Regions from separate parts of the Homo sapiens genome. Here region 1 is linked to region 2. Evidence: fine-mapped expression QTL. A gene starts in region 2. The other region holds a variant in brackets. All regions are shown on one strand. Distances are from middle to middle.

Region 1 (9,810 bases), 120 kb after region 2:
AAGGTTGTTCCTAAAATAAGGGCAGAGTCACACGGGGGCAGCTGATACAAATTGCAGACTGTGTAAAAAGAGAGCTTAATGATAATATTGTGGTGCCACAAATAAAATGGATTTATTAGAATTTCATATGACATTCATGCCTGGCTTCGCAAAATGTTTCAAGTACTGTAACTGTGTCATGATTCACCCCCAAACAGTGACATTTATTTTTCTCATGAATCTGCAATGTGGGCAGAGATTGGAATGGGCAGCTCATCTCTGTCCCACTTGGCATCAGCTGGCGTCATGCAAAGTCATGCAAAGGCTGGGACCACGTGAGATCATTCACTCATACATCTGGCCGTTGATGTTGGCTGGGAACTCACCTGGGGCTGCTGGCCTGAATGCTTATAGGTGGCCTCTCCTTGTGGCCTGGGCCTCCTCACAACATGGTGTCTGGATTCCCAGGATGAGCATCCCAGGATCGCAAGAGCCATGTAGAAGCTGCATCTTGTTTATACCTTTGCCTTGGAAGTTGCATGGCATCACCTCCACCATACTCCATCAGTTAGAGCTGACACAAACCTGCCTGGGTTTAAGGGGAGAGGAAATATTGCTGGGGTCATTTATGAAAAATACAGTTTGTCACATGAAACATTTGCAAAATTGTTTTTGGTTGGATTGGAGAAGTAATCCTAGGGAAGGGTGGTGGAGCCAGTAAACAGAGGAGTACAGGTGAAGCACCAAGCTCAAAGCGTGGACAGGTGTGCCGACAGAAGGAACCAGCGTGTATATGAGGGTATCAAATAAAATTGCTACTACTTACCTACCACATGCCAAGCACTGTGCTCAGGGCTAAACGGGCATTGCCTTTAGTGATCACAGCAGCTTCTACGGTGTATGGTTCTGTGCCAATGTATTGATAAGAGGGCACACACTGTGTACAGTAAATGGCTTATCCAGCTGGTGAGTGATGCGGCAGATTGAGTTTTCTTCTGTGATTCGGTGGAGACTATCAGCCCAAGATGCTTTAAGTGCACAACATTACAGGGAATGCCTGAGTGCCTGGCCAAAGGGATATTTGGTTTGGCCATCTCTGGATGCCTGATTGCCAAGCTCAGGACCAGGCAATGTGACTTTGCATCAGCAACAACCAGCATCCCTTGACCAGGCCTGGGCCAGAGTATTGGTCTCCTCTCAGCCCCTGATCCTGTGAAGTAAGGATGTGGGGGAAGACCTGGCAAGGACACAGATGAAACACAAACAATAGTAATTCTCAGGCCATCATCAGTGGAGCCATGTTAATGTAATCTGATGGCTTCTCCAGGGTCCACAGGAAGTGAAGAATCTGTTTCCCAGCAGTGGACTCAAAACCCATCTGGGCTCCTAACCTTCCTGTAAACCCCTTTAGTGGCTTCATTAGAGCAGGCGTTCAGCTCACTGTTCTATTCATCTCAAGGAATAATGGGCTTAGAGCAGTTTCTGTCCTGCTGGTTAACTTGTTTGGCCTATTCCATTCTGGATTTTGTCAAGCAGTAGACAAGCAATTAGACAAGAACTTGGAGGCACCATTTGTATCCACTTTTTAGACTTAATAGAAACATTGAAGATGAACATAATCTACCAACGAAAGACGTGATTCAATTCAACACTCCCTTCCCATGACCCAGGCTGGGCAAGGAGGCCACGTGATGTGGAGGGCACATTCCTTGCCTGCACAAACTCACCATCTGTGCACGCAGTGGCCTTCCCTAAAATCAGGGAATTGTTTTAAGTCTTATCAAGCAGCCAAGGGATGAAAGAGAAGGTGGGTTTTCATCAAGACTGGAAGGTGGGGACAGGGATGAGCATGGAGCTGGCCGTGGGCCTGGGGTACCAAGAGACTCCTTGAGAGACCAGGCAAAGCAAGTGATTGGGACAGAGGTTATCTGTCCCAGGTTATCTGGGCATAGATGCAGGTGAGCCCATGGCCCTCCCAGTACCTCCTGTCTCTGGCCTGTTTTAGAAGGTTCTCTCCTCCCCAAGGAGACACAACAACTCCTAGGGCCACTGAAGATATAACTATTGCCCAGGTTTCTGGTCTCTAGGCTGGGGAAGTCCTCTGGGTAGGAATCAGCAAGAAGATCCTAAAACAAAAGCTCATCCATTTGCGTTCCATGATGCTGGGATTTACACTTGAGGCTTAGCTTTGCTCTGCCAACTTCTTCAGAGCTGACACAGGATGAAGGCAATGCCATCCTCAAACACTGCAGGCATCACAGCTAACAATTGTGAAGTCGTCTTAACTCACCATAAAAAGGAATCCACTCCCAGGCAGCCCTACTTCTTTGCTTTGCCCAGCATTTTACTGATTCATACATTATCTCACTTGTGCCAACACTCAAGAAGCAGGCTACACTGACACTGGTATTCCTGCCTCCATATTTTCTTTAAAAGACAAATCAAAGCAGATATATTAAGTGACTGTTCAAGAGCACACTTGGCCCAAGTGGCAGAGCTTGGACTGGATGCATGTTTTCCAGCTCCTCATCCAGGGCTCTGACCAGTTTAACCTGATGCAGTCACGTGGAGGAGCAGTGCAGGCACAGTATGTCCCATAGGCCCAGTGAGATGCATTCTTGGTTGGCTGGCCTTCCACTTGGCTACACAGGGATGTACAAGGCGATCCCATCTTGATAAGACCACCACCTCAGAGTATGGAGCTCAGAGAGGGCAGGCATGAAGTTTCCTTGGCTGGTGCACCTAGAATTGGCTGAACTCATGAGAAGTTGATATAGAACAGTGCTTGCCACAGAGCGGGGACTCGGTAAGCACTTAATGAATGAATGAATTCTAAGTCAATCCAAGAGTCTGATGATTTCTTGAAAAGGGTGTTAGCTAAAGGATCTTAGGCATGACTGTAGAATTTGTAGTTGCAATAGAACAGAGAAAGAGGAAGCTTTCTGTCTCCTTAACACTGAGCTGTCATGTTTTAAAGCTTGCTCACATCTTGGCACATTTAAGAGACAGTCACCCCAGGACTCAAAAATAGGGAAGTAACAGTAACGCAGGGGAAACGTTTTCTGTTTGGAGGAGCAAAGGCTGAGAACACTGTGAAAACATTTTGCGCGCACAATAGTAACCTGGGTAAATGCAGCGTGAAGGGATTTTAGTCACACGTGGTCTTTCTTACAAGGAAGGTGGTGGGGGTGCAGATGAGGTTGCTAGAGAATGTTAGAGGATCCCTCTCTGGATTGGAGATAGGGAAAGAAAGTTGCACGGCTGCTGAGGCCCCTTCTAGGTGGCAAGGCTGTGCTCCCTGGTTCTGATGATGTGCCTGGGTGGACATGGCCCCTGTGAGTTTGTACAGTCTTGCAGCAGGATCTAGAGGGGGGATTTCCAGCCAGGGCTGCTAGACGGAGGCCTACTCTTCCATCTTTCCTGATGGCAGGATGGCCTGGCCAGGGCCTGGAAGACAGAGACCTCCTGCCTCCGCCTCAGTAAGACGACAAGGAAAGGCAAATGCCCAAGGGAAAGAAAAGGAAGGCTCTTCTCCCCAGAGTTCCCCATGCAGACATGAGTGCGTGCTCAGTTCAGAATCACTTCTGAGAACTCATCCCTAATGCTGCAGATTTGGGCTGGAACAGATTCACACTGTCTGGTTTCACCGAGGACATGAAACTCCACCTTGCGGGGATAAAGAGAGAAAAACAAATTCATCAAATGGAAGACACATTGAAAGTGTTTTTCCTTAATGCTTATCCTGTTTTTAAACCATTATTTCCAAGTTGACACCTTTTTTAAGGAAAAATAAATATTTTGCGGCATTAAAGCCATATACAAGGTCTATATCAGAAAAATATATTTGGGGGGCTGCAGCACAGGACTGAGGGAGCGGTACATGCTTAAAAGGCAACAGGGCCTGGTTTTCAGTGGCGATGATGATTCTCTATGACAGTCAGGGAAACGTGGTCTCTGAGAGTGATGGGCACATAAAGCCTTGGTGCCAGAGTGCATCGCATGGTGTCCAGGCCGAGTCTCTGTCAGATGGTTAGAGGCCTGGGTCTACCCTGCCAGGAGAGGCGTGTTTGGGTAACAGGCAGATGGAGTTTGGAACACATGAATGGCTCATCACACGCCAACCCTGAGTGGGGCAGGAGGCAGGAAGGGTGGGCTGCCGCCTCTGGTTGGCATTCTCAGAGATGCGCAGTCCATCAGCTTGTTCCAAAGAGTGAACACAGGCCTCTGCGTGCTCCCAGGCTCCTTGGTGTCCCAACAGCTGGAGCTCCTCGATGAGTCACGGGAGTTCTTTGCCAAGAAGTAACGATAGCATTACTCATGGAATTG[C/T]TTCACTGCTTTCTGAAGGTTGGCATAAAACCGGGTCATGCTGCGGGGGAAGAAGGAGTCCACCACGTTCTGTGGGAGGTAACCGCTGAGGTCGGTATGGAAGAATGTGACCAGGTTGGTCTTGGTGGGTTCCCTGTGAAGGCAACAGCAGAGCTGTGTTATGATCTGCAGCAGAGGTGCTGGGGACGAGCGCCAGGCAGGTGAGCAGAGCCCAGCCCAGTGGAAATGGCCATGATACAGTGATCGCGTCTCATCCCTTGCTGTGCCCTCCACCCAGGAGTCCTCTCTGGACCTGCTGATTTTCAGGATGGAAACCCATCCTGTCGGGGATGCATTCCACAGCCTCTCCCGGCCTCCAGGGAGGAAGAAGTCCCTACTCCCAGCCCAAAAACCCAGTACCCTGCTGCCCGATTCACTCAGCAAATGCTTTCAGAGAACTCACTTTGTGCCAGGCCCTGAGAGGAACGAAGAGATGCTGCCCTTCACTATTTAGGGTCTGCAACCTCCTGGGGGCTCCTGGGACCCTTTCAAGGGGTCTACAAAGTTAACACTATTTTTATAACAACACGAACATGTGATTCGCCTTCTCTCACATGCATACAGTGGGGTTTTCCGGAGGTTACATGATATGTGATATTGCAACAGACTACACGCACAAGCAGGTATGAGTTTCTGTTAAGCCTGGCATGAAAGAGATGGGCAAAAATATAAAAACAATGCCACTCTTTTCACAGTATTTTTTGTTTTAAAAAAATAGTTTTTTAAAATAAAAATGTTATCTATGTTAACATGCAGTGCATTTTTATGTTAAAATATTTTTAACATTTCTCAAATTTACCAGTTACAATTTCAAATACATCAAATAATGATAGCTATAACCCCCAAGAACAAAGGCCCTATGAAGCCCTCAAATATATGTAAGGGTATAATAATGCCTTATGCCAAAATTTTGAGAACTGCTATTTAGAGAACTGGCGAATAATTTGAGCACCTATGAAGGGATTTTGGCCAAGGGGTGGCAGAAGCTCAGAGGACGGCAGGTGGCACAGATGCTGACTGGAAGTCCAGAATCAAAGGGGCACACGATGTGGAGATGGAACACAACTTGGTAGGGACAGGAAGCGATCTTCACTGTGACAAACTTCTCAACGGCCAGGACAACAAAGGTGGTATAGGCTTTGTGGTGTGCATTTGGCATTTTACTTGAATGCAACTGTCCACTCAGCCTCACCAGGAACCCCAGGTAGCACTATGCCTGCCCATCAGATGTTTCCTGACATCATGCAGGCTACAGGTTTGGAACTGGAGACCTTTTAGAATCCCACTCCCCAGGGCCAAGCACGGTGGCTCATGCCTGTAATCCCAGCACCTTTGGGAGGTCGAGGCAGGTGGATCACCTGAGGTCAGGAGTTCGAGACCAATCTGGACAACAAGGGGAAACCCCATCTCTACTAAACATACAAAAGTTAGCCAGGCATAGTGGCAGGTGCCTATAATCCCAGCTACTCAGGAGGCTGAGGCAGGAGAATCGCTTGAACCTGGGAGGCGGAGGTTGCAGTGAGCCGAGATTACACCATTGCACTCCAGCCTGGGTGACAAGAGCAAAACCCCACCTCAAAAAAGAAAAAAAAAAAAAAAAAAAAAAGAATCTCACTCTTCAAGTCATACAGAAGGACAACTGGGGCATGGAACAGGATGGGGCCAGCAGATCCACAAGGTGGGAGAGCATGTGCTCCTCTGGGCTGTGGCTTTTCTCCTCTGCTTGTGCCCTGCTTCCCCAAAGAGGGTGAACTCCAGGGGACAGAGACTTCCTTCCATCTCAAAGTCCTAGCATCATCCGCACTCCACCTTTCCCTCACCCACCAACCCCTGCCCATCCCGCCTCTGCTAGAGCCTTCTCTCTCCTCCCTGCTCCTCCTCCCAATGGGCTTCCTCTGGCCCGCATCACCTCTCAGCAGCATCCTCTTTGGAAACATGAACAGGTGAGTGAGAAATGAGACTCCGTGATCATGTTTCCCTCTGGGTGAGGAATGGGCTTTGTGGTGGGCGGAACGTGTGAGAGGCCATGTGGGATGGGACAAACTCTCTTCGTCACAGTGGCCTTGGTGAGTGGTAGCTCTTGCATGTACACCATTATGTGACAACAACAGAAAGGGCAAAAGGGGGCACAGAGGAATTGTAGGTCACCCAGTCTCCCCTCAGAAAAGGCTGGGATGAAGGCATCCACTACGGTTGCTAGAAGGATTTAATGAGAGTAGGTGTGACGCACTTAGCATCCTTCCTGTGCACAGTGCAAGTGCTCCAGAAATGACACTGTAATGCTGCCTCGACCACAGATACAGGCTCCTCCACCTTAAGAACACCTTTCCCCCGCCCCCCGCGCCACTTGGAGCTCAACCACCACCACCTCTGGCCTCAACACCACCTCACCCCCAATGAGTCCTCTTGCCCTCTTGCTCACAGCCTCTTACTCAAGAGAGCAAGAGGAGAGAGAAGGCCCTAGCAAAGGCGGGATGGGCAGGGGTTGGTGGGTGAGGGAGAGGGTGGAGTGCAGACGATGCTAAGGCTTTGAGATGGAAGGAAGTCCCTGTCCCCTGGAGTTCACCCTCTTTGGGGAAGCAGGGCATCATAGCAGTTAAGACCAAAGTCAGACCATGTCCTGCTCAGGCCTCCCCAGTGGCTTCCCATTTTATTCAGAGGAAAGTCCCCAACAGGCTGCGGCCCCTGCTACCTCATGGGCCGAATGTCCTAGCCTCTCCTCTTGCTAACACAACACCTCCCTCTGTGCTGTTCCTCAAAGGCCCCGCTCTTGCTCCGGCTCCTGCTCCCACTTCTGGGACTTTGCATCTGCTCATCCCCCTGCCAGAATGCTCGCTCCACCAACACGCCCAAGACTCCCTGCATTTGTGCCTTGCTCAAACGTCTTATTAGGGAAACCCCCTAGATAACCCACTCACACCTTTCCCTGGCACCTTTATCTGGGTTTAGTTTTCCCCAAGGCACTTAACGTCTGATACTTACTAGCACATCCACGAGATAGAACTACTTACATTTGTGTTTTGTCTGTCTCCTCCTGCCTTCATTGGAATCTAAGTTCTAAGAGGGCAGACACTCTAGCTGTTTTGAGACATCAATATCTGGGTTAAGAGCCCAGATTCTGGAGCCAGATGGCCAGAATGAGACTGTGGCTCTCTTACTTGCTGGCTGTGTGACCTTGGGTTAGTTACTAAACCTCTCTGTGCACCCACCATTCTTATTTTAAAAATGAGGATCACAACAGTGCCTTACGGTTGTTATAAAAACAGTTAATTTATATGAAGTGCTTACAATAGTGGCTGACACACAGTAATGCTGTATAAATGTTTGCTGCTGCTGCTGCTGTTATTATTGTCTGCTGAATCTAGGGTCCAGAATAGGCCTATCTTCACAGAATAATAAGAGAATAATCATTGTCACAGATTTCAGATCCACAGCCTCATGAGAATAACTGCACACAGCAGGCTCTGGAAGAAAGCTTTACAGAGAACACGTGATGTTTTTAATCAAGTGGAGAGGAGTTGGAAGAGTCAACACTTGAGTTAAAACCTTCATATGGGCAGGGTTTTGTGGGACCCCAACCACCCTCTCAGCAAAATCCATGCAATCGGGCCAGGCGCGGTGACTCACGCCTGTAATCACAGCACTTTGGGAGGCCAAGACGGGGATCATTTGAGGTCAGGAGTTCAAGACCAGCCTGGACAACATGGTGAAACCCCGGCTCTACTAAAAATACAAAAATTAGCCAGGCATGGTGGCAGGCACCTGTAATCCCAGCTACTCGGGAGGCTGAGGCAGGAGAATCGCTTGAGCCTGGGAGGCAGAGGTTGCAGTGAGCCAAGATTGCACCACTGCACTCCGGCCTGGGTGACAGCCAAACTCCGTCTCAAAAAAAAAAAAAAAAAATCCATGTGATACCTTTGCTACCTGGCATGAGGGCGTGATGCTACCCATTATATTGTGCATTCCACCAAAAAGAAGACAGCAATGGGATTCAGCCCCTCAGAAGGAAGGACTCTGCCTCTTATTCTGAAAATTCCTCTCTGTCAGACCCGGCACCACTGAAAGGTGAGTCTTAGCATCTGACTACCAGGTGGGAGAGGACAAGGAAATGAGCCCAGGCCAGGGGATCCAGGGCACCTATATATTGGGAGAACTGAAACTGAGTGCAGGTGTGTATGTCTGTGTGTGGTAGAGCACAGCTGTGCTATTTTCAAACTCAAAATTTTGTTACATCTAAGAAAAGTCTTCACATGATGTCTGAAAAGCCAGCTTAGCAAAGAGGGTAACATAAAGGTGCTAGGTCTGGGCTTGGTATAATCCCACGACACCGAGGCCCACCTCCTGGGACAATGTGGTAGAAGGACAGACCCCTTCCCTCCGGGTGTCTGTATGGAGACTGCAGGGAACACCGGGACACACCTGCAAGGCACAGTTTCTTTTGCTGTCAACATGCATGATTCCCAGGGTAAACAAGGGACCTTCAGGTAATTCATTACACAGAAATTTCCTGGCAAGAGCCTGGCCATGACCTGTGGCAAAATGGGAACAGAGAGTCCCCGGGGTCAATTCTGAGGCTGACTTACAGTGTGGTCTCAGAACTGCCCTTTAGGCCTGAGTTCCGCCACATTCCTTGCCGAGGAGAGATGATCACTGAGTGAAATGTGGGGTGGGGACTGCTATCCTCAAAGCTGCTCCTGCCTGGCGGAGGGTATTCAGGGAGGACTCGGAGCACAGACCCTGCCCTGCCAACCTCCTAGCCTTTGAGTCAGGACACATCACTGAACCTCCCCAAACCTCAGTTTCCTCATTTGCTAAATGGACCATGACATTTGCTTAACCTGGAGGCTGCAGGGAAAATTTCCTGCATCAAAAATAAGAGTAACGCCTCCCCTCAATTCTTTCCCACATGCCAGGTACTCTCAGGAGGTTCTGCTTATGCAGATGTGTGTGAAAGTATTTTGTATCGTCACAATCTAAAGAGCTATAAGGCATTTTTCTTCTTTTGAATCGTAGTCAAAGTGCCCCTTTTCACAGAAGGTCCACAGGGAAGTCACAGTTAGGTCTGAGCCATGTACCTCAATGCAGGAAATTATCCTTACCCTGGAAGAGGTTCACAGAAGCAACCACAAGGATGGTTAAATCCTCTCACAAAACCTGGCTTCGGGGGACATAACGGATGCTCCACATGGGTGGCTGGAAGACAGTGCAGAATCTCGGTGAGTTACAACTTCAGACGGTCAGGTCACTGCCATTGGGGTGCCATAGAGCACACAGACCAGACTACCTGCAGCCCTGGAGTCTGTGAGGGACTCCTGCCTCTTGGCGTGAGTTCCCCCTACTCCCACCCTACTGCCCCTTACACTCACACATACAAATACACTCTCACATGCGTGTACACAAACTCACACACAGACACACACACACTTGCACTCACACACACTCACTCATCCACATTCACACATAAAC
Region 2 (11,834 bases):
ACCTTACGAGACTTTCCTGGAACTGGAGTTAATCAGAATCCAACATGGGGGATTAGCACCCAAGATGGAGTTGCCTCAGCCTCCACACTGGCCCACAGCAAGTGCTGCACAAATGCTTGTTGTTGCTGTTATTAATCAGCCAAGGTTCTATATCTCTGAGTACTTTTTATTTGTTTTAGAGCCATGAATTAAACCAAGTGATTCTTCTTGTCATAACCGGAGGGTCATGAATGCTCTTGGAACTAAACTCTCTTCCCTTGGAGAGAACATTCTGTTTCCTAATCTGTGGCTTCTAGGAGCTAAGAGAGATACTGTGAATATGTTTTTTAAGTTCCATTTAAACCTGGGCCTAATCACATAAATTACGCTAAGGAAATGTCTGGAAGAGCTCTTTGTAAACTGAAAACTACAAACAAATGTAGAAACTCATTACATGGCATTAGTCATTTATTCATTCATTTATGCATTGATTCACTCAGTAAATGTTTATCAACCCTTTATGGGCCAGGCATGCTCTAGTGCTGGGGACCCCACAGTGAACAGGCTGATGAGGTCCCTGTGTGGGACCTAGATGGGGCGGATGGGTGGTATGTAAGTACCCAAGCAGACTAACAAGACAGCTTCAAATGCTGGCAAGTTCTATGAAGAAAATAAAATAAGGAGAGGTAACGGTGAGTGCCTGGTTTAGGTTGAGTGGTCAAGAAAGATCCCACTTAGGAGATGGAGTCAGGGAAGAGCCAGCCATATGAAGATCTGGAAGTGGAACTTTCCTGTAAGAGAAAACAGCTAGGGCAGAAGTCTTAGGGTGACAAGGGCATGGCTTATTCAAGAAAGAGCCAGAAGGCCAGGGTGGCTGTGGGATGCAGCGAGCAGGAGAGGCAGAGGTGGAAGCTGGAGTTTGGGAGATAAACAAGGGTGAGATCATTTAGCTCCTTTGGGACACTGTAAGGAATTTGGGTATTATTTTGGAAAACAACGCAAAGCCTTTGGAAGGGGTGGAGCACAGGGCATTTTTGGGGCAGTAAATATATCTCTCTGTCTGATACTACAGTGGTAGATCCATAACGCTATGCACTTGTCAGAACCCATAGAACTGCACAACACAATGGGTGAACCATCACGTAAGCCATGAACTTTAGCTAATAATCATGTATCAGTATTGATTTATCAATTGTAAAAAGGTACCACGCCAATGCAAGATGTTAATAGTATGGGAAATTGTGTGTGTGGAGAGGGAGATCAGTATTCGGGAGTTCTGTACTTTCTATGCAATATTTCTGTAAAGCTAAAACTGCTCAGAACAATAAAGTTTATTAAATTTTTAAAAAAGTGGTTGGGTGCAGTGGCTCATGCCTATAATCCCAGCACTTTGGGAGGCCAAGGAAGGAGGACTGCTTGAGGCCAGGAGTTCAAGACCAGCCTGGGCAACACAGAGAGACCGTGTCTCTACAAAAAAAAAGAAAAAAGAAAAAATAGCCAAATGTGGTGGCATGTGCTTGTTGTCCTAGCTACTCGGGAGGCTGAGGCTGGAGGATTGCTTGAGCCAGGAGTTTAAGGCTGCAGTTAGCTATGATCATACCACTACCCTGCAGCCTGGGCCACAGAGCAAGATGCTGTCTCAAAAACAAACAAACAAACAAAAAACAGTTTTTAAAAGTAATTCAAAGCCCTTGCAAATTTTATGCTGATCCAATTTATATTTTCAAAAAGCCTACCTGCTATTATGTGAAAAATGGATTATGAAGGTCTGCATAGGAACCAGAATCCCAGTTAGAAGGTGAAAGCTATAATCAGACAAGAGGCACTGGTAAGAGGAGGGTGGCGGCAGTGAAGATGGAGAGAAGCGGAAAGAAAGTGGGATAGCTTCTGGGGATAGAGCCAACGAGAATCACTGATAAATTGGATGTGATGTGGAAGGTTAGAGAGATGGAGGGATCAAGATGAATAAAAACTCACAGAGGGCTTATTCTGGCAGGCACTGTTCTAAGAACCTTACAAGTATTACCATATTTAGCCCAAACAAACCTTGTGAGGTGGATGTTAGTGCACTAGCCAGCCTATAGATGACAAAACCAGTCCACAGAGAAGTGCCTTTTTGCCTGCCTATGATCATGCACTTGGGCAGGGACAGACCTGCGAGATGAACCCAGGAATTTTGGCTTCAGAGCCTGTGCTATGTTCTTCCCACCTTGATACTGAGGATTTTGGCTTGGGAAATTGATGGATGCTAGTGACAATTACCAAAATGTGGAAGTTTAGGGAAGAAACATTTTATTAGGGGGGGAATCAAGAGTACTGTTGGCAGTGTTCCTTTTTTTTGCCTCACTGAATAACAGCCAGGCAATGTTACTTTTGAAATTTAAGTTAAACCCCAGCTGAAGATGTTAAGCAAGTGGTAGGAAAAAAGAGTCAGAATTCAAGGAGAAGTCCAGGCCTGGAGAAGTGAATTTGGGAGTTGTTGGCATGTGCGTGGTATATTTGCTTGTGGACTGGCTTCAGTTGCTTGTCGTGATTGTAAGTATCTTAGTGATGGAATATTACTTTGAAAGGATGCAAGCCTGATGGACAGTTTGAAAGAAAAAAAGGCCAGAGAGAGGGCAGCATGGTCTACATGGAAGTCAGCTAGAATTTTCGTATGAAGTTAAAACCCTTGGTTTGAATCTATATGTTGCTGTGGGCCAGGGAAAGAGGGGAAGAGAGCCGGGGAGCGGGAATCAAGGGACCAATGGCTTCTGACTGCACAGCCTTGGACGTGCACTTTTTGGACATGTAACTTCTCTGAGTCTCAGTGTTTGCATCCGTAAGTGGGGACGTACAATAAAATCATCAAGTTTTGGCCTCAACATTCTGTCTAAGTTGAAAGTGCTAAATGCAGAGAGAATTTATTATCATCATGTCCATTACTGTCAGGTTACATTACTAGTAACATTACATTACTAGTTAAAATTGTTACATTACTAGTTAAAATTGTTAAATTATATTCTGCGTCATGTTACATTACTAGTTAAAATTGTTACATTACTAGTTAAAATTGTTAAATTATATTCTGCTCATGATAATACAGTTCGCATGACCAAAAGTGTACAGCATAAAGAATTCCCAAGGCATTTTATAGATTGCAGGACAGCTCTTTGCTCAGACCTCTGAGCAGCCCTGTCAGATTATTGGGTTATTGTTTCCATTTTGTGGACATGGAAACTGAGACTCAGTAAGGTAAAAGGACTTGCAGTTGACAGAGCCGCTTAGTACAGAAGCTGGGGCTTATTGCTCTGACCCTAAGCTCTTTATTTTGCCATTGTTTGAACAGAATAGGAGATGACCCTGTTGTGTCATTTTAAGGACACACTTTCTTTTTGCCTTCTGAATATGTTTACTTGCCACAACAAACATGTATTACTTTTATAACTAAAATTTTGAAATTAAAAATTTTTGTAATTTTAATTTTTTAAATTAAATTTAAATTTGTAATTGTAATTTTAATTTTTAAAAATTAAATTAGAATTTTTAAAATTAAAATTTTTTAAATTAATTTTTCAAAATTTATAATTTTAATTTTGTAATTAAAATTTTTGTAATTAAAAATTTACTTTTGGAAATAAAATTTTGTAATTAAAAAATAGGAGAATTAGAAGGAAATACAGGTTATTGATTATGAAACTTTAGCAAGCATCAGAATCACTTGTTGAACAGATTTCTCAGTTCCGTGGGCTGGAAGGGCCAAAAAGGTGAGCAGGCTTCTGCTTGGTTAGCTGTTGGCAGCATGCTTCCTCCTCTATTGCCTCATTCTCTCAGTAACACTGTGCAGTAGAAGTTTCTAATTTCATCTGGCAGACAATTAATTTCATCTAATTTTCATCGTAGCAAACTAAGGCTGTGAATGACCAAGATCACACAGGAAGCTCTTGGTTGAGCTTCAAGTGGTGCTTGAACTTCCTAGTTCTAACCAGGGCGGGGCTCTCTCACCTGCGTCTTCCTCCCCGTCTCTTCTGGCTTGCAGTGAGCTGGACTATGGAGTGTTGGGCAGGGTGGAGACTCTTTCTGCAGGATGTCCTGAAGGGCAGAGGGGTGATAAAATTTCCACCTTGAAGCACAAACCACCCCGTATTAGGAAAAATCAGGGCCAAGTCTCAACTACACTTTGGAATAAATTTACCTTCTGAGAGTGAGAAAGAACAGATCTTCGGAAAATAGAGGGAGAGGCGGGAACTGGATTCAGGTGCCGATGACAAGAGAGAGCTTAGACTTAGTGGAGGAGGGGGGCTGTGGGGCCCTCCCAGGCCTCAGGATCCAAGAAGGGCAAGGCCAGCCCCCATAGCCCTGGGGTGCTGAATTGCTCCTCAGCCTCTCTGCCAGAGCAAGATGGAAGTGGGGCCTGAGTCTGTCCTGGCCCCACCGCACCCAGGCCATTGTGAGAGAGATTGTGGGTGTGAGCTGAGCAGGCGACACTGACAGAGGCGCTCACTCTCTGCAATTTAGAAATTCCTTCACTGCACTCCAGACTCACTCCAGACTCAGCCCTACAATGTCCCCTGTGCCTGCTGACAAAGGCAGCTTTATCCCCAGAGTGCTCCCTCCTCCCGTGCTTCCCTTGGGACCGTGGGCCTGTGTTCTCCAGCAGCAGCGGCTAGATCTTTGCAGCCTTGCATGGAATTTCAAGGGCTTCCTACAGGTTGCACCTACACCCTCATTAAAGCCCCCAGGAAGCCCTGAAACATTTGGTGCTGAGCGTTGGGAAACATTCCATTCTTTAGAAGAGAGGTCCATACAAAAACCTCAGCCTAGCATGTACACAGGGCTCACAGAGACTGAGCTTAGGAGAGATGTGTGGGATGCTCTTTGCGGGGCAGATGGATTAAATGCCACCTTATGATTAGATTCTCCAAGGGGCTACGTGGGGGAAAGGCACTCTGGTCTCATGACACTAATGCCAACAGGACACACACAAAAGTGCCCCATTCTTTTATGCTGCAGTTTTCAACATGCTCTGTATACGTTAGGTCATGGGCTCTCGCACCTGAGCACGCACCAAAATCACCTGGAGGCTTTGTGAAAACAGAGTGCCAGAGGTGCTGCTTCAGGAGGTCTAGGCCAGGGCCTGAGAACTTGCATTTCTAGCAGATGCTGCTGATGCAGCTGGCTTGAGGACCACTGAGTTACATAAGCTTCTGAGAGCCAGTCTGTTGTTTTTGGGAAAGGGTGGCACAGACAAGAAATGAAATGCTATGGAAAAAGCCTGGGCTTTGGAGACAGGTGGATTTTGACTTGCTAACTTGCTAACTGTGTGACCTTGGGGAAATTCCACGGCACGTAGTAGGTGTTTAATGAACGTTTGTGCAGTGGCTTTCTTTGTCTGCAAAGCAGGTGATATATTTACCAGATTGATGGCAGGATTGTATGTGATGACTTTTTTCCTCTTTTTATTAAATTTTTATATAATTTGAGAGGAGTTCTTGCTATGGTTTGCCCGGGCTTGTCTTGAATCCCCCGGCTCAAGTGATCCTTCTGCCTCAGCCTCCTGAGTAGCTGGGATTATAGGCACGTGCCACAGCTTCCAGCATGTGATGAGGTTTATAGAAAGCTCCTAGCAGCGTGCCAGGCACATTGCAGGCACCGAGTCATGTCTGCTACCTTTCGGCTCTCCTAGTCATTTCTGTGTTGTCCAAAGAAGGCAGGGGCAACTGGGCTGGACCAAGGAACCTCACTGTGGTTCTGTGGCTCTGCACTGGGTTTGCCTCCTGGGTGTTGCCGGCCAGCCCAGCAGATGGTGGACCTTGTTCTGAGGCTGAGCTTCTCAGCACTGGCAGCCCCCCTTTTTGGATCAAGCCTTTTCACGTGGAGCAGTCAGATGGCTCAGATCAGGAGTCTTCGAGCAAATCCATGCCAGGTGGGACACATTTGTCCTGAGTCACCTGTCCAGAGCAGGTGGTGAATATTGTGTCCTACTCACGGCATCTCAACTATCGGAGCCTGGGATCTGACTCAAAGGCCGGCCTCCGTCTGAGAACTGAGCGTCCATTTCTCAATCCTTGCCGGCTCTGACCCAGGCCTGGGCCACAGGCTGTCCGGGAATAAGTGGTGCTGCAATCCCTGCTGGGCAGATGGAGAGAGGAGCAAGGGAGATGGCAGCCCCGGGGGACTGTGCATAGGGAGGTAGGTGGGCACCAGGTGAGTGAATGTCTGTCAGGCAGCTGCTCTGTCCAGGTGGCCGTTACCGGAGGGAGGAAGCTGGCCTCTCTGACCTGAATGGGGAGGGTCTTGGTTGCTAGGACGTAACTTCATATTTGGAAGTGGTGCTGGGGTCAGGGGCAGGAGCAGAAGCCAGGATTGTGTTGGTAGGAATCTCTGTGTCACCATGTCACAGTTAGGTACAGGAGGAAGCAGCTTCAGAAGGCCAGAGCGGGCAGAGGGATATCGCTTGACCTGGCTCTGCAGCACGGGGAGAATTTGGTCCTGAGATTTCTGACTTTTCAGCCTCGTCTCATCCTTGGCAATGGGGTGTGGAAGGAGGTGGAGGAAAGGAAGGCAGCAGGAGAGAGAAAGGCCACGGGGCACCTGATGGGGGCTTCTCTGCTGCCTGGCCAGACTCCTTTTCTCCAAAGTGGGCACAGCGGGTGGGCATCTCTGCAGATTGACCATGGGAAAAGTGTTCACTCTGCTTGCTTTTTGATAAGGGTCCCGTGACTAATTCCTGCATTGGTAGGTCCCAGGATTGGTGTTTTTTTGTTTTTGTTTTTTGTTTGTTTGTTTTTTTCTTTTTTGGTCCATAGCAAGTTTGCTTTCTGTAGCTGGAGAATGAGGTAACAGCATAAGAATAGAGGTTCCCTGTGGAATACAGGGAAGCATCTTCTCCTCCTGCCCTTATCAGGTGAAATCCTCCCACTTCAGGCTGAGCCATACAAAGACGACCCCTTTGTCCCAGGAGGCCAGTTCAAGCTCCCACTGGGTTCCTGGAAGCAGCCTGGGAGCTGCCGTCTCTGTGGCTCCCCTTCCTATTTCTCCAGTTTCCCCCGGAAGGAGAAGACCGTTCAGCCTTTTTCCTCCTCTGTTCTCCTTCTTTACCCTGAAGTTAAGTGATGGTCAACATTTACGAGCACAGTAGAAGGCACCTCCCCTGCTGCAGATATGACGTGGGCATGAGCCGTCAGGTGGGTCAGACCCTTGAAGCCTCTACTGCTCATTTATTCAATCCCCAGTGAGTCTTTTAAATAAAACTTAGTACCCCAACCATTTCCTGGCCACTCTTCAAGCCCCAGGCACCAAGCTAAAATATTCACATACCTCATTTAATTTAAACCTTACAACAACCTGGAGCTTAGGGAGTATATCCCCAAACCGAGAGGTGAGGAGGCTTGCACAGGACCACTCAGCTAGACGTTCCCAGGACCCAAACCCAGCTTGACTCCAAAATCCATGCTCTCACTGGCTTTGTGGCATGCCTCAATAAATACTTGAGTTTCCTCAACACAAAGATGGTCATATATCCATAGGGTTAAAAAATAATCTCTGTTGGATGCAATTGACTATAGAATTATTATTTTCTAATTGTTTGTATTCATGGAAACCTTTTTAGAATTAAAATCTATCATGAAAACTCATGTATAATCAGTTAAGGCAGAATTATTTTGGCAGAGGCAGACCAGGACCTTGAGACCTGCCCTTTTGTCAACCCCTCCCCCTTTCTGGTTCCCAGCAGTGGCCCAGGGGTATAGGAGTGAGAGGGAGGGAGGTACACTTTGAATTGAAATCTACTGGCCAGGTACAGTGGCTCACGCCTGTAATCCCAGCAATTTGAGAGGCCGAGGCGGGCGGATCACTTGAGGTCAGGAGTTCCTGACCAGGCTGGCCAACATGGTGAAACCCTGTTTCTACTAAAAATACAAAAATTAGCCAGGCGTGGAGGCACATGCCTGTAATCCCAGCTACTCAAGAGGCTGAGGCAGGAGAATTGCTTGAACCCGGGAGGCGGAGACTGCAGTGAGCCGAGATCATGCCACTGCACTCCAGCCTGGGTGACAGAGGGAGACTCCATCTCAAAAAAAAAAAATATATATATATATATATATATATATATATAAAATACATATTTTTTATTGTGCATTTGAATTGGTAATACATTTTCATATATAGGTTACGTTTTGCTATTAAAAAGCAATTCATTGTGAATAGCAATATGCTCATAAACACGGGGAGAAAATAGGCATGGGGCAAAATAAACAAATAGTTCCAAGAACTTGGAGTTGTGGTTAACTAGGAAGGCAGCTTGAAATCAGGAATTTACTTCAAGTTCTTCTTTTGAATTCCTGTTGAAATAAGGACGAATCTATGTCAGTCTTGTAAACTAGACAGTGTTGCTCAGTGTGTGCCAGAAACACTGAGAAGTCTCAGTGGATGTCTCAGGTGGATGTGAAGGACGTTGGGTGGAAGGGCGGAGCCCATCAGGAGGGAGGCGCTGTTCTTGCCACATCTGGAGATGCTGGAGGAGAGGTTTGCTTTGAGTGGGAGCAACTGGTAATGCTGGACAGTGACCCGATGCTGGGATCCCGCGTGGAGATCTCCATCGGTCTTGCCCCTGGCTGAGTCTTGGCATGTGCAGCTGGGATGGAAATGCTCCTCCAGTGGACAGTTACAGCAGCTAAGACATGGCTACCTTGCTCAGCCAATAGGAGGCGGTCACCTACAAACATCCCTTCCAAAGGTTCAAGGCTCCCCTGAGAACTTGGATGCTGGGGAATGGTGCACCTTCCCTGCTGCTCACTGCACCTCTCACCTGGCAAAGAAAAGCCACAGGAAATCTAAGCCCTTTCTGCAGTCTGGCATCGGCATATGAAAGATTCCAACGAGGAATTTCAGAACTCATCCCAGCTCCCGAATCTGAGTAAGCACAGACCTCTTGAGTAGGGCTGAGCAAATGCGGCAAAATCAATGCACATATGACAAGATTCAGTGGCCCAAAGAAGGGAGCTAAATGAGGAATCAAAGCAAATACCCCATATGGAATTGCTGTAAAAAATCAGAGAAAACCTGAAAGTAGTGGTTTTCAAGCATGACCCACTAGTGGATTGAAAATCAACTTAGCGGGTTGGAACCAACTTCCTTTTTCTAAAACAAAAAAAGAATAGCATACATCAGATTGCATCAGGTTCTTAGCAAAATCATATTTTATATTATCTTTTTCATACCAAAGATATTTTATATTATTTTTATTATACCGTAGTAAAGGTATTGTTTCATGAAAGTTTTTAGTTATATATATTTATTTATTTATGTATACATATAAATCTTATGTGTATGTGATCCATGTACTATGATGTAAAATGTAAATTATTATGGTAAGTCAAGATTTTTTTAATTTTTAAAATTCTTTAAAAATTATTTTTATTTATTTATCTATTTATTTTTTGAAACAGGGTCTCACTCTGTTGCCCAGGCTGGAGTTCAGCAGTGCAATCCCGGCTCACTGCAGCCTTGACTCCGTGAGCTCAGGTGATTCTCCCCCTTCAGCCTCCCGAGTAGCTGGGACTACAGGCACACGCCACCACACCTGGATAATTTTTTGTATTTTTATTAGAGATGGGGTTTTGCCATGTTGGCCAGGCTGGTCTCAAACTCTTGAGCTCGAGTGATCTGCTCGCCTCAACCTCCCAAAGTGCTGGAATTAAAGTCGTGAGCCACCATGCCTAGCCTAGGTCAAGATTTTAAAAGTTTCATAAATAGTCCTGTAGAACACTGGGTGGAGTTTGGAATGGTGAAAATGTGTCAGGAGAGTATTGTAACTGAAATATTCCTGATCTTCTCTTTCAAAAAGATGGCCTTCTTCCCATTATCCAAGGCAAGGATTTCAGGCCTGAGTCAGCCATAAGCTCATCTGTCTTTTTTTCTGTACTTACCTCCTCATAAATGGATTAAGAGAGCCTCGAGCAATGGTGAGGGTTGGAGAAGGTGGACAGGTGGCCCAGTCTTATGCGCTTTCCCTCTCTTCCTTCCTTCTCCTCATCCTCCAAGGATGGTTGTAGCCAACTCCAGCCAAAGTGCAGATGCCAGAGAATCCTGCAGCAGTTGCTGAGAACACAGGATACCTGTCACATTTACTGAAGCAGTGGCAGGACAATGCATCCCCTGCATTGAGCTAGTTGTCAGAAGCAGAAAATAAAAAGTGTGTGTGTGTCTCTGTGTGTGTGTGTGTGTATGTGTGGTGAAAAAGAGAAATATATCTAAAAATAATCTTAAAAGACATGATATGTAATTTCTTACCAAAACTCAAGCCAAAGCAATCACACATACACCCACACACATGCACGCACACACCCCCATCCACACACACACACACAGAAGTAAATGACAGCAGTTGGACCATCAAAATCTGAAAAATTCTTTCAGGCCAAAGACTCCATAATGCTCTATAGCTGTTATTTTGCATTTCTTTGAATCTCCTCTCAGTTCTATTTAGAGATCACGAAATGTCTAATTTAATGGCCCTGCCCTTAGTTCTCCAGGAAGGAGATCTTAGTTGTTCATCCACGAACAACTTTTTGAGCCACTTTCCTACTTCTATTTCTTCCAGTAGGCAGATCATATTTTGGGTTTCTTTGTTTTAAGTTTGTGGTTTTTGTTTTTCCCTCTTTTTCTTTTTAGGTTGTAGTTAAGTGGTGTATACAAATTTATTAGCAATTTATTATATTGCCACTTTGTATTTTAATCTTTAATATTAAATTTTGTGTTTGGTAAAAATGCTGTAATTAGTAAAATGTAGAGTAATCAGTTTTTACCCATTCTCTGCTCTTCAATAACAGCTTGTTGAGTATTCTCTCTGATTTATTCTAGCATCAGACACACACACGCGCACACACTGTGCTGCAGCATGTTTTGTTTTCCAATTCTATGTAGCACAAAAAGACTTAACCTCATTCTTCTCCATATCTCAACAGTATTCCATGTATCTTGATGATCACTTACAATATAAGGCAAGTAAGCATAGGCAATTCATCAGATTTGAACCAGAGATGGGGTTACTAAGTGAACTATTAGTTCCCCAGAAGAATTAGCCCAAGCAAAGGTGTTGTACAGTATGTAAAATGTCTTTTCCTACTTTATACATTTTATCTGGCCAGAGAACACCTTTAAACATTAAATGCAATCATCCTTAGTCATTCAACAAATATTTACTGAGCAATTGATAGAGGCCATTCGCCAAGCTAGGCCTCATGGATCAACTCGAAATATGACAGACAGACTCTGCCCTCAGGGAGCTTAGAGTTCAGTAGACATGACCAGTGGTGACACAAGCCACTGGAGTAGCATCAGATGAGTGCTTTGGTAGTGGAAGAACCTGTTCTCAGAGCACAGACAGCTTTGGGGGTCTGTATTGGTTTGTGGTTTCATTTTAAAGAAGTGTTATCCAAAAATAGGGTTTGAAGAGTGATGAAAATTTAGCATCATCAAGGACTATAGAAAATTTGGAAGGCATATCTCCTAATGCTATCCCTCCCCCCTCCCTACACCCACAACAGTCCCCAGTGTGTGATGTTCCCCTTCCTGTGTCCATGTGTTCTCATTGTTCAATTCCACCTATGAGTGAGAACATGCAGTGTTTGGTTTTTTGTCCTTGCAATAGTTTGCTGAGAATGATGGTTTCCAGTTTCATCCATGTCCCTACAAAGGACATGAACTCATCATTTTTTATGGCTGCATAGTATTCCATGGTGTATATGTGCCACATTTTCTTAATCCAGTCTATCATTGTTGGACATTTAGGTTGGTTCCAAGTCTTTGCTATTGTGAATAGTGCCCCAATAAACATACGTGTGCATGTGTCTTTATAGCAGCATGATTTATAA

What was found.
Region 1: its variant is fine-mapped to the expression of IL16 in whole blood (TOPMed, PIP above 0.99).

The regions. Positions count from the first base shown.
Region 1 is chr15:81,308,966-81,318,775 of GRCh38, forward strand. IL16 (interleukin 16) reads left to right here. Exons shown (of 19, transcript NM_172217.5): 19 at 1-5,093. It overlaps STARD5 (StAR related lipid transfer domain containing 5), which reads right to left. Exons shown (of 6, transcript NM_181900.3): 5 at 9,444-9,537; 6 at 88-4,438. The coding sequence ends at 4,291. Among named protein-coding and RNA genes, the nearest start is that of STARD5, 10 kb to the right of the region's middle. RefSeq lists an enhancer at 3,920-5,119 and a silencer at 6,552-6,631. The variant C/T (reference allele first, on the strand shown) is at 4,306.
Region 2 is chr15:81,190,988-81,202,821 of GRCh38, forward strand. IL16 (interleukin 16) reads left to right here and starts at 5,892. Exons shown (of 19, transcript NM_172217.5): 1 at 5,892-6,165.